2 linked regions of the Homo sapiens genome follow. The protein of the gene in region 1 purifies or fractionates together with the protein of each later gene. This does not show direct contact. Each region holds a gene or a part of one and is shown in the gene's direction. Other genes may lie near its edges.

Evidence for each region.
Region 2: the proteins of MIX23 (region 1) and CHCHD4 purify together in Homo sapiens (co-immunoprecipitation; 2 studies listed by IntAct). This does not show direct contact.

What each region holds. Positions count from the first base shown.
Region 1 is NC_000003.12:122,380,084-122,387,339, reverse strand, and holds the start of MIX23 (protein MIX23), read left to right. Parts: upstream 1-4,108; 5' UTR 4,109-4,115; coding exon 4,116-4,166; exon of another isoform or gene 4,167-4,183; coding exon of another isoform or gene 4,184-4,192; exon of another isoform or gene 4,193-4,518; intron 4,519-7,256. Other genes in the region: protein FAM162A, read right to left, coding at 3,041-3,074.
Region 2 is NC_000003.12:14,111,427-14,115,021, reverse strand, and holds the end of CHCHD4 (mitochondrial intermembrane space import and assembly protein 40), read left to right. Parts: intron 1-1,827; coding exon 1,828-2,135; 3' UTR 2,136-2,945; downstream 2,946-3,595.

The sequences.
Region 1 (7,256 bases):
AACAAATTCATTTTCAAATCTGACCAGTCAACAGAGTTTAGGGGAGCAAAACTTTCTTTCAATAAGAAACATTCTTGTAAGGTCATTCCATTCCTTTGAACTAATAATCATTCTGTGGAAAGATACAATATCCTAAAAGTTATATCTATTTTATTCTTTCAGGAGAAAACAGGTGTGAAAACTCACCTTACATTTGCAGCATGTTCCAAGATATTTCCTAGCATCCTTCATCCAAAAAATATGTATTGCCTGTCTACTATGAACTGAACACCAATAAGTGGTAAGGACTGAGTAAAAACAAAACAGAGCCAGTGTTTACCCTTATGAAACCCAGCGTAGTGTGGGTAAATGGCCATTTAGTTCCTAATCATCTGTATCAGTGCTTTTTAACTTAAAGAGCATGAACTGCTCTGAGTAGCAGATATAAAATATGGACCCTCTCTCTCAAAAATGGTATACAATCATAAAAATTTGAGAAGTTCACAGGACCTCTCAAATGTGGAGGTGTCCAGTACCACAAGTTAACAACCCTGATCTGTATCTACAACTACATCTACAAAACAACAAATTCGAGCTCATAAAAGCCTACATTATGTTTGCTATATTGTTTGCTAAGGGAGTATACCAAAGATTTCCAACAGAAACAAAAGTAAAGGTCCATCATTTATAAGGTTAAGTTTTGATCATCTGAAATTTCACTTACCTAGAGAATCTTATTCCAAATATTCTGGATAAGTAAGGTATGCCTAGATTATGCTTCTTTTCTTTTTTTTTTTTTTTTTTAGACAGGGTCTCACTCTGTTGTCCAGATTGGAATGTGGTAGCATGATCGTATTATAGCTCAATGCAGCCTCAAACTTCTGGGCTCAAGTGATCCTCTTGCCTCAGCCTCCTGAGTAGCTGAGACTATGGGTTTGAGCCACCATGCCCAGCTAATTTTTAAAAGTTTTTTTTGTAGAGACAGGGTCTTGCTAAGTTAGCCAGGCTGGTCTCAAACTCCTGGTCTCAAGCAATCCTCCAGTATCAGCCTCCCAAAGTGCTGGGATAGCAGGTGTGAGCCACCACATTGAGCCTACATTTCTATTTGATCTTTCATTCCTTTGGCTAAGGCTGCTTATTAAAGCAGTCTTCTTTCTTGAAAAGCCATTTGCACATGAAGGTGTACTTTCATTTCAGAACTAAATCTGCATTTCATGACTCTTCCATTTCAGATTAATGAGATCCAATTAGTCATGACAAATTCACACACGCACAGCCCCTGAATGAACAGCTTGAACAACAGCAAAAAGCACAAAAATTCCAGAATTAAAGGGTACCCTCTCCTGGCTCTAACATTTTTTGGCAAAGAGATCCTGGACAAGTCATCTCTGACCTATGTTTCTTCATTTATAAAGTGTGGGAGGAATAAGACTTACCTGAGAGGGCTGCTATGAGAAATCCATCCAACAAAATAATGTATATGAAAGTATTTAGCTATGAAGTGGGTGAAAGGTAGTAGGTTGTTGCGGAGTTGCTCACAAAGCATCAGACATTCGTGGAAGATCATATGGAGAGAGCTGCTCATATAACATCCTTAGTGTGCTATTAAAAATTTTATATCTGAAGTAAAATAAATTGTTCTTAAATCACTCAAGGAATTCTGCTTTGGTTAAGTGGTCAATAGTGAAGTTTTTACACATCAGAAGTTTGCAGAGATGCAAAAATATATTTATGCAAGATGCATAAATATATTCTCAAAGCAAGAAGATGAACTACTTACAATATACTCAGTATTAGTTCAAAGATGTCAAAGTAGTTCCAAGATGTCAAAGTTCTTTTCATGCAGTCCATTTTAACTTTTTTACAGAGCAATGATCCTTTCACTTGCCTTGTTGAAAAGCTTCATAATGTTAATAGGATGTACAGAAGATATTTTAGGTGAATTAGTTCAACAAAACTGACAAAATCAATGAAATCATAGTATTGAGGATTTTAGTGGAAGAAGTGTTTGCTTTTAAAGGAAGTAAATATAATAATACTCTCTAGTTTGAGACATGTTTTCCAGTCCATTCTCTACCGGAACACTAGATAAGCTGTGTAAAGGATAATCTTGAGGTGGGGAAGGTTATGTATCAAACTTGTGAAACTATGCAACATTCACTCTTTTTTTTTGCATTACTTCATTTACATTACAATATATATTTATATTATTTGAATAGCCAAGTTTGGGGCTATTTTTCCTTTAAAAATTTAATTAACAACTTTTTAATAATGTAGTGTGTGCCATTGAACAAAAGATCTCTGGTACCCAGAAAAGAGTCAAAATGCAAGCCCTCTGATTTCTCAACCCCTACTATGCCAAGGCTCTGCTGGTTCTCCCAAAAAAAAAGAATTAAGCTTTCATTACCTAAGTCCAAAATAGTCATCACACAAATGTCTACCACCAAAACAAACTGCAGATCCTTCAATTACACACTTCCTCCAAGAAATTCGAATCAATTAATTGTATAAGTGTTTAAAAGTAATGTATCCTCCATTTTAAGAAAACAATTATTATTAATCTCTAAGACCTAAATCCTTGGCCTAATCAGACATTTAATGAGTGGGGAAACTTCAGACTGGAGGTTTTCTGGGATAAACTCCAGAGAGGAAGGAGCAGGGGGAAGAGGGAAGACTCAAGGAGAGCAATAGATAGGGGAGGTTAGGGTGGAAAGCTGAATGCATGGGTAAAGGGGAGGTCTAGGGATAGTAGGTGCTTTACAGACTGAGCTCAGGGGAGGCTGAGGACGGGGGTGGGGAGAAGGGTAGGCGCGTGGGCAGTTAAGTTGGTGGGAGCTGGGTGGATGGAGATGAGGGTAATTCACGGGCAGTCTCCAATGCCTATCAGCAGCTGCTCACCTAGTTCCCTCCCACATGGCTACTAAGTAGGTAGGATTCTGAGGAACCGAGAAAGTGCGTCATGGAATGGAGCCACTCCGGGGCCCAGGAAGGCTTCAGGATTCCCCCACCCGCAGCGGCCGGGCCAGCTCCCCTACCTCCCATATCCCGACCGGCGTCTCACCTGCTGCCAGGCGCAGACCGCTGAGGCTCCCCATGGCCACTTGCTACTCCGCCGACCAGCGCAGAACTTCGCCGGGGACGGTGGCGCTGGTGAGCTCAATGTCACCCAGCGTTGGAGTGGGAAGGACGCAGGCGGCGCCGGGGGGCGGGGCGTGCGCGACGCGGTGTACAGGCCTGCGCCAGTGCGGGGCGTGTAGGACGTGCGCCACGCGCTGGAGACCCGCGGCGCCAGCCTAGTGCCCCTGGCGCCGCATCCTGAGCCAGCCTCGGAGATGGTCCTGTGGAGTGTGGCGCCGTGGGCCCTTGCCCTAGCGGATATGTACCCATGGGAGTACCTGTGTGAAATAGAAAGGAAATGTGCAACTTTCGTGATCTGTAAACTCCCGAAATACACCAGATAAACCAGTATTCCAGTATGCCGCTCTTCCAGTGTTTTCAATGAACATATGCTTTTATCAGAAAACACATAATTGGACTCTGCTCAGTGGCCCTATCTCTTGTTGGAGCATCCCTCAGGCTAATCTGAGAAATTAACATGTATGTTTTCAATTTGTTTTCTATTTACCTATTTTCTAAAAACATTTGATCATCTCCATCCTAAACACTTTACTCATACCCACCCACACTGCCAGAAATGCCGTTTTTTCTTGACGTTTCTTAGTGGTCCCAAATTCTTAACAAAGACCCCCCTGCTCCAGGGTCCGGGGAGGAGGTTAGGCACTGGAGTGAGAGGTATTAGAAAGGCCTCACTTGCCTAGATTTCCTTCAACGACCTGGTAGGGGAACCACAAGGAAATTGTTTCCCTTTTGTGAAAAGATGGGATTGGAGTAAACAGTCCCTTCAAGGTCTGACAATCTTTGATCCATGTATCTGGCCCAGTTCCAGGAGGACATGTTAAAAGGGTTGGGACAGCAGGGTGACAGGTTCCGAGGTGGATGCGGACCACGTTGAACTCAAGCCTTGCACTCAGCTTTCCTAAGGATTCCCCTCGTACTATATTTTTTGTCAGGCGACTCCGCGGTCACCTTTGCTCCGCGGTGATTGGCCTGCAGCGGGGTCCTCGTGTTTGTCCAATATGGCGGCGCCCAGTGGCGGTGTGAACTGTGAGGAGTTCGCCGAGTTCCAGGTGATGGGGTTTTCCTCATGTGGCAGGCATGTGCCTCCTTTTGTCCCCAGACCCTATTCCCTGCTTTGCGAGGGAGTATGAACCAGCTTTGGAAAAAGCGGGCAATTCAAAGCTCTTTTCTCGAGCCATTGGAGGTCATGGGGGGCGCGGGTTTGGCCTTAGGGAGCGAGGCTGCTCTGTAGGAGGAGGGAGGAGGGGGGTCATAGTTCTCTCCGCGGCTCTCCGGCCTTGTCTGGGAAGCTCTGGGTAATCTGCTGTGGTAAAGCTCGGGATGCGTGGATAAGGATTGTAACAATCTTGTAGCAGTTCCCTGAACTCAGTTTCCAGCTTCTGCCATTCCTCTCCTACTTTTGTAAGTAGAGTTTTTGTGGGAGAGAAGAAGGTGCAGAAGAGCTATTTAGTTGATAAAACATACTTGGTGCAATTTACTATTTTTGTGGGACAGGACGTATGGAAGCTTGGAGGGAGGATTAATTATAGTACCTGCTCTAGTGTCATTGCCCATTAGAGAAGATGTAATATTTAGAGGTTTTGCCTTTTTATGTTCAAATATCAGAGACCTAGGGCTAATTATTAACACCTGAATGCAAGAATAGGGATCTGGTTTTGACCAAGTTGCCATTAAAGTTATCTGTTCCAATTCAGTCATAAATGTGCTTCTGTTTAGTTACAAAGTTGAATTCCAAAATCATGATCTTAAATATGTATTGCATTATTAACTAACCCAAGATACTGAAAAATTGACCTATCTGTAGTAAGCTTTGTACTTTGAACGGTTTGAAGGTAGTGGTATTCTTGAATACTGCCTCAGCCTCCCTGTAGCTAGGACTACAGGCACGTGTCACCACGCCCGGGTAATTTTTTAAAAGAAATTTTGTAGCGAGAGTGTCTCACCAAATAATCCTCTTGCCTCGTCCTCCCAAAGTGTTGGGATTACAGGCGTGAGTCACCACGCCCGGCCTAAAGTGTTTAAAATTTTTGCAACTCTTATTTTTTCATTATAAAAATTAGATTTAGTACTTCTGTAAAATATCCTATTTCCAAATTGAAATAAAATCCAGAAAAGAGTGTTTAAAATCGAGTGCCTAGAATCCCATTTTAGCATGCATTCAAGAATTTATTAGATACTGTATTAGTCCGCTAGGGCTGCCATAACAAAATACCACAGACTAGGTGGCTTAAACAATAGAGATTTATTTTTTCACAGTTCTGGAGACTAGAAGTCCAAGATTAAGCTGCCATCAGTTTCTAGGCTATACAGTTTGATTTAAGGGGGGAAAAAGAGTGCCATCAGAATTAGTTATAGTAAGGCTTCTCTTCCTGGCTTGTAAATGGCTGCTTTCTCACCATGTCTTCTCTATGTCACTATCTCTTCTCTGTGCCTGCACCTGGAAGGAGAAGGATCTCTGCTATCTCTTCCTCCTCTTCTTTTTTTTTTTTTTTTTATTTTTTTTTTGAGACAGAGTCTCGCTCTATCCCCCAGGCTGGAGTGCAGTGGCACAATCTTGGCTCACTCCAACCTCCACCTCCCGAGTTCAAGCGATTCTCCTCCTGAGTAGCTGGGATTATAGGCGCCTACCACCGTGCCCGGTTAATTTTTGTATTTTTAGTAGAGATGGGGTTTCACCATGTTGACCAGGCTGGTTCCAAACTCCAGACCTCAGGTGATCCGCACCCCTTTCAGCCTTCCGAAATGCTGGGATTACAGGCGTGAGCCATGGCGCCCAGCCTATCTCTTCCTCTTCTTATAGGGACATCAGTTCTATCGGATTAGGGCCCACCCTTATGACCTCTGTTTAACCTTTATTACATACCTCAAGGCCCTATCTCCAGATACAGTCATGTTGGGGATTAGGGATTCATGAATTTTGGGGACACACAATTCAACCCGTAACAGATACCTACTAGTCTCCTGGCACTTGCGAAACCCAGTGGATGGAGTATAAAACAAGGAACGTAATCTAAGTAGGGCTATAAAATGTAGAAAATATTGGGAAGAAAAAAGAATAAAATGCTGAAAGAATTTAGAGAGTTGGGCCTTAGGCAGGCAGGGACTAGGGGTATTCTAGGCAGAGGCAATAGGATAATAGACAAAAAAGTTTTATGTATTTAAAGGAAATAGAAAATCAGTATTGCTAGAACACATTATTCATACAGGGGCACATTGGGATTACACAAGATTGCAACCAGATTTGTGGAAAGCCTTGTGTGTCACGTGTGAGTTAGGGAGTCCTTTTTGGGCAGAGGGGTGAGATGATCGAAGAGGTGCTTTAGGAAGATTCATCACTACTGCCAGTGGCTTTGTTTAGGCCCGTATCATTTTTGAAACTAGCTTTGCAACAGGCCTTCCTATCTTCTGGCACTTTTTTTCTCTACTATATTCCCCCTTCAATCTAATCTCCATAATACTGTGGCATATGCTATTATATTCTGAATTTTATAATCTAAGCTATGCTTTTGAGTTTTGGGTTCATATGACTAGATATAAACTTCTTAACATGGCATATAAGACCTTTTAAAATCCAATCCCAAAGTGCCTCTTGTCATGTCTCTTATTATTGTCCTCATACGTGTCTCTTTCATCATACCCACCCCCCAGCACTTCAACATGCATGTTTAAATATTAGTATTTCTATTAGGAATATTCATTGACACATAAGTGATTTTTGAATCACATTGTAATTAGGTACTAAATAGGTTATTTTCTAGCATCAATGATGGTTTCTTTTATGCTTACAGGGCTGCTTTCTATTCCTGTCCTGGGGATGCTGGGTGTTAGAGGACTCTGGCAGTTGTAGACAAGTTTGTGTTTCTGGTTTGGGGGAAGCACCGTGGGAGCTTTGATGTAAAAATAGAGTTTGAGGAACCAGATCTGTCTGAAAAGAGCATCATGTAAAAGGGACTTTGATGTCAAGTACCAATGACATTACTTCTGGGTACCATCAGGCAAAGGGAGAGGAGAGGAAAGGTTAAGGGAGTTCCATATCATTCTTTGGAGTACAGTGTATTTTAGTTATATAATGGCCCCTTTCCTACTCCTCACCCCTATGTACCCTAAAAAATATGTAGAATTATAAAATAACTTTACCT
Region 2 (3,595 bases), about 110 Mb from region 1:
TAAGAGTACCAAGAAAAAAGGTGGCAGAATTAATTTTCCTAGAATCAAAACATCAAGAGGGCCTTAAAGATCATCTGATCCAATGAGAAAACTGGGGGCCTGGGCGGGGGCGGAGACTGACTCAGCCAGAGACTGGAACTTCAGGCCTTAGACTGCATGTTTGACAACACACTGCATCTGAGCTTTATGTAACATGCCAAAGGTACCCTCTGTGTGGATTTATATTGTGTCCCTGAAATGCAAATTGGCACCATGTGCTTTGTGAGGAGGTATCTCATTCCAGCTTACCTGCCCCTAAGAAACAATGAAACAAGGACTCCTGGAGACCTAGGTTATACATTTTTTGTTATGATTTTTTTTAATCAACCACCTGGTCAATTTGTACTGGGTTGTAATTTTTAAATGTCAGTATTACCTCTTTTGGAAACTGGTTGTGCAGGTTTGTGAGCAGATTTGAAGCTCCAGGGGGCAGCATTTGCAAATGTTTCTCCAGCACTGAGGTCCATTTCAAGAAGTGGTGAGATGTAGGGGAAGGGGCATGGACTCTGGGAATCCTGTCAGCCCAGTCTGCAGTCCTCACTTGGACCATGAACCCCAGAGACTGCATGAGTAAACTGGGGTTAGTAGCACCCACTGCAGAAGGTTGTCAGAAGGCTTATGTGAGTTACCAAACGTAGCTTAATGCAGGAGAACTTGATCTGCAACTGCTGATGGTCCTGGGGGTCTGCGCCTGCTAAGGGGGCAGCACTAGTTGGCATCGTCCTTGCTGTCCCCATTTTACAAGTAAGGAACAGGAATAGCTACAGCAGATCCATTGATCAGTGGAGCTTCCCAAGCTGGAATTGAAGGCAGGCGGGGTTTCGCCTAGGACTTTGGACGTTAGTGCAGAGTGCCAGGCTTGGGTACTGCCCTGGAGTGAAGAATCATGTGTAATTTCACAGGACCTTTTAGAGGCTCTCTTAGAAAGTACTTTCAGTCTCTTAATAAGAATCATGTAAGAAACTTCTGTATGAATCATGTCTTCACAAAGCTGAAAATGAAGCCATCGTTTTGAGAGCATTTTGGAAAACCAAGAAATACTATTTAGATGTGAATAAAGTTCAATGATAAGAAAAGGTATAAAAGTCAAAAGTAAGAAGCCTATTAATATAGTGAAAATGAAAACCCATCTATAACCTTGCTTCCTGCCCAACACATATGTGCAGTTTAACAGGTTTGGTTGATTTTTACAAGAATGCACTCGCACTAATGGTATGCCACCAGCTTCTCATTGTGCAGCATGTCTTGGACATCTTTCTTCGTCAGTACATAAGGAGCAACCTCCTCCTTTTCACCAGTCCCCAGGCTATGCTGAGCTTCTGAGAGCAGCTGCAGGGCAAGAGGGGCTCAGGGGGGCAGGGAGCATGGGGGTGGGGTGGTCCTGATCATCCATATGGGGAGGGGGATTGGAAAGAGGAGATCAATACCTCAGTTCCTTAAAGTGTTTGGGCTTTCAAAAAGCTCCTCACTAACCATCCAAGTGATCTCCTCTTCTTTGGGCTAAATGGGTCCCGGTATTTAATTCTTGGAGCACAGCCTCAGAGCACTGAGAGGTGGCTTAGAATAAATTAGTGTCACACGTGGAGAAATATGTCATTGGTGGCTTCTCTCCCAGGTGGGCCAAGGAATGCTGGATATGTGCTAGGCTTTAAACCTAATCCAAATCGAGGTGTGGGTCCATAGGCAACAATAGTTCCTGTTCTGCACCCCCTCAGTAGCCTGTGAGGACTGGACTAGTTTTGTATTTTCTGAAACTTTAGAGAACATCTCTCTATCTTCCTGTTCTAGGATTGATACTGCCAAATGGAAACATTAACTGGAACTGCCCATGCCTTGGGGGAATGGCCAGCGGTCCCTGTGGAGAACAGTTTAAGTCAGCCTTTTCCTGCTTCCACTATAGCACGGAGGAGATCAAGGGGTCAGACTGTGTAGACCAGTTCCGGGCCATGCAGGAATGCATGCAGAAATACCCAGACCTCTATCCCCAAGAGGATGAGGATGAGGAAGAGGAAAGAGAGAAGAAGCCAGCAGAACAAGCAGAAGAAACAGCTCCCATTGAGGCCACTGCAACCAAAGAAGAGGAGGGATCAAGTTAATGAAGGCCACAAGGCACTGGGCACCAGTCCTTTTGGAGTGGACCTTTTGCAAAAGGCCTTGTCATCACCTTCCAAGAAAGTTTCCTTCTGTTGTCCTGTGCATTATAATATACAAAATAACTTATTTTGATGATCAGAGGTCTTGAGGTCTTGACATCTTGACATATACACTGAAAAAAATGGGGGTTGTATGTATGTGTGTCCTACCCAAACCTGTGGCCGCCACTTTTGAATTCTCAGATTGCCCTGAATTTTGCCACTTTTAAATAATGTGCTGAATAAGCTCAGCAACTAAAAACCATTACCCAAGAACGTTTCTTGTGAGTGAGCTGATTTATTCTGATTCATTATATTCCTTTTGGTAGATTTTATACCCCTTGGGGAAATAATACAACAAAAACATCTCTTAAAAATGCTGGGATGGGGCCATATCTACTAGCAGAGGCCAGATGGTCAGATATGATTTCTGCAAACCCATCTTGACCTTGAGTATGTGAAGGGGTACTGTACTTTATTCCTGATACATTTTGGTTTCCATGTAGGTGTTGAGCTCCTGGTTTTCTGTGTTTGGATGATGAAGATTTGGACCCTTCCATTCATAATCCCTTTCTAAGTGAAGGGAGAGGCTGGCTTGGCTGTTCCTTGTTATTCCGAAAGCCCTGGTTTGGGGCCCATGTTCACACTGGCTCTCAGTCTAGTCAGGTGCAATGTTCTTGAGAGGTGGGGACCTAATTATTACCAGAGTAGCAGCAAGAGAGGAAACGTTGTGAATTAAGTATTCAATTAAAAGGAAACATGATTTCTACCTGATTTTGAATGTGTCCTTTGTTTTCACTAGTTAAAAATGTTTTCTATATAAAAAAGTATAAATTATGAACAATTCAATTGAAATTCCTCTTGAAAGATATTGGTAAACCAATTTGAGTCCGTTAAAATTTTCTGTGTTGAGTTCAAAGGAAGCTTACTTATTTTATATGTGAGCAGATGCCTTCACACAGACATTACAGTTAGTCTATGAGGTGGGGAAGGCTCTTCCTGTTTGAAAATAGATTAACTTGCCTAAGGTAACTGCTAGACAGTTTTCAGGCTGTGGCATAGTAATGCCTCATTTGTCTCAAATGTGTTAAGTTATTTATGTAAAAAATTGCCTTAAAACTTAATAGCTTGAAACGAGGAATCTGGGCATGGCTTACCTGGGTTCTCTGGCTCAGTGTCTCATGAGGCTATGATACTTGTAGTCATCTCAAGGTGGGACAGGCCTTTCAAGATCGCTCGAAGTGGTTTCTGGGAGGGTTCAGTGGGTTGAATCTTGTGGGCTGTGGATTGAGGGCCTCAGTGCCTTACTGGCTGTTGGCCAGACACCTCCTTCAGTTCCTTGCCACATGGCCTTTGCCTTAAAGGGTCAGCTCACAACATGGGAGGTGGCTTCCATCAGAGCAAGCGAGAGAGCAAGATGGATG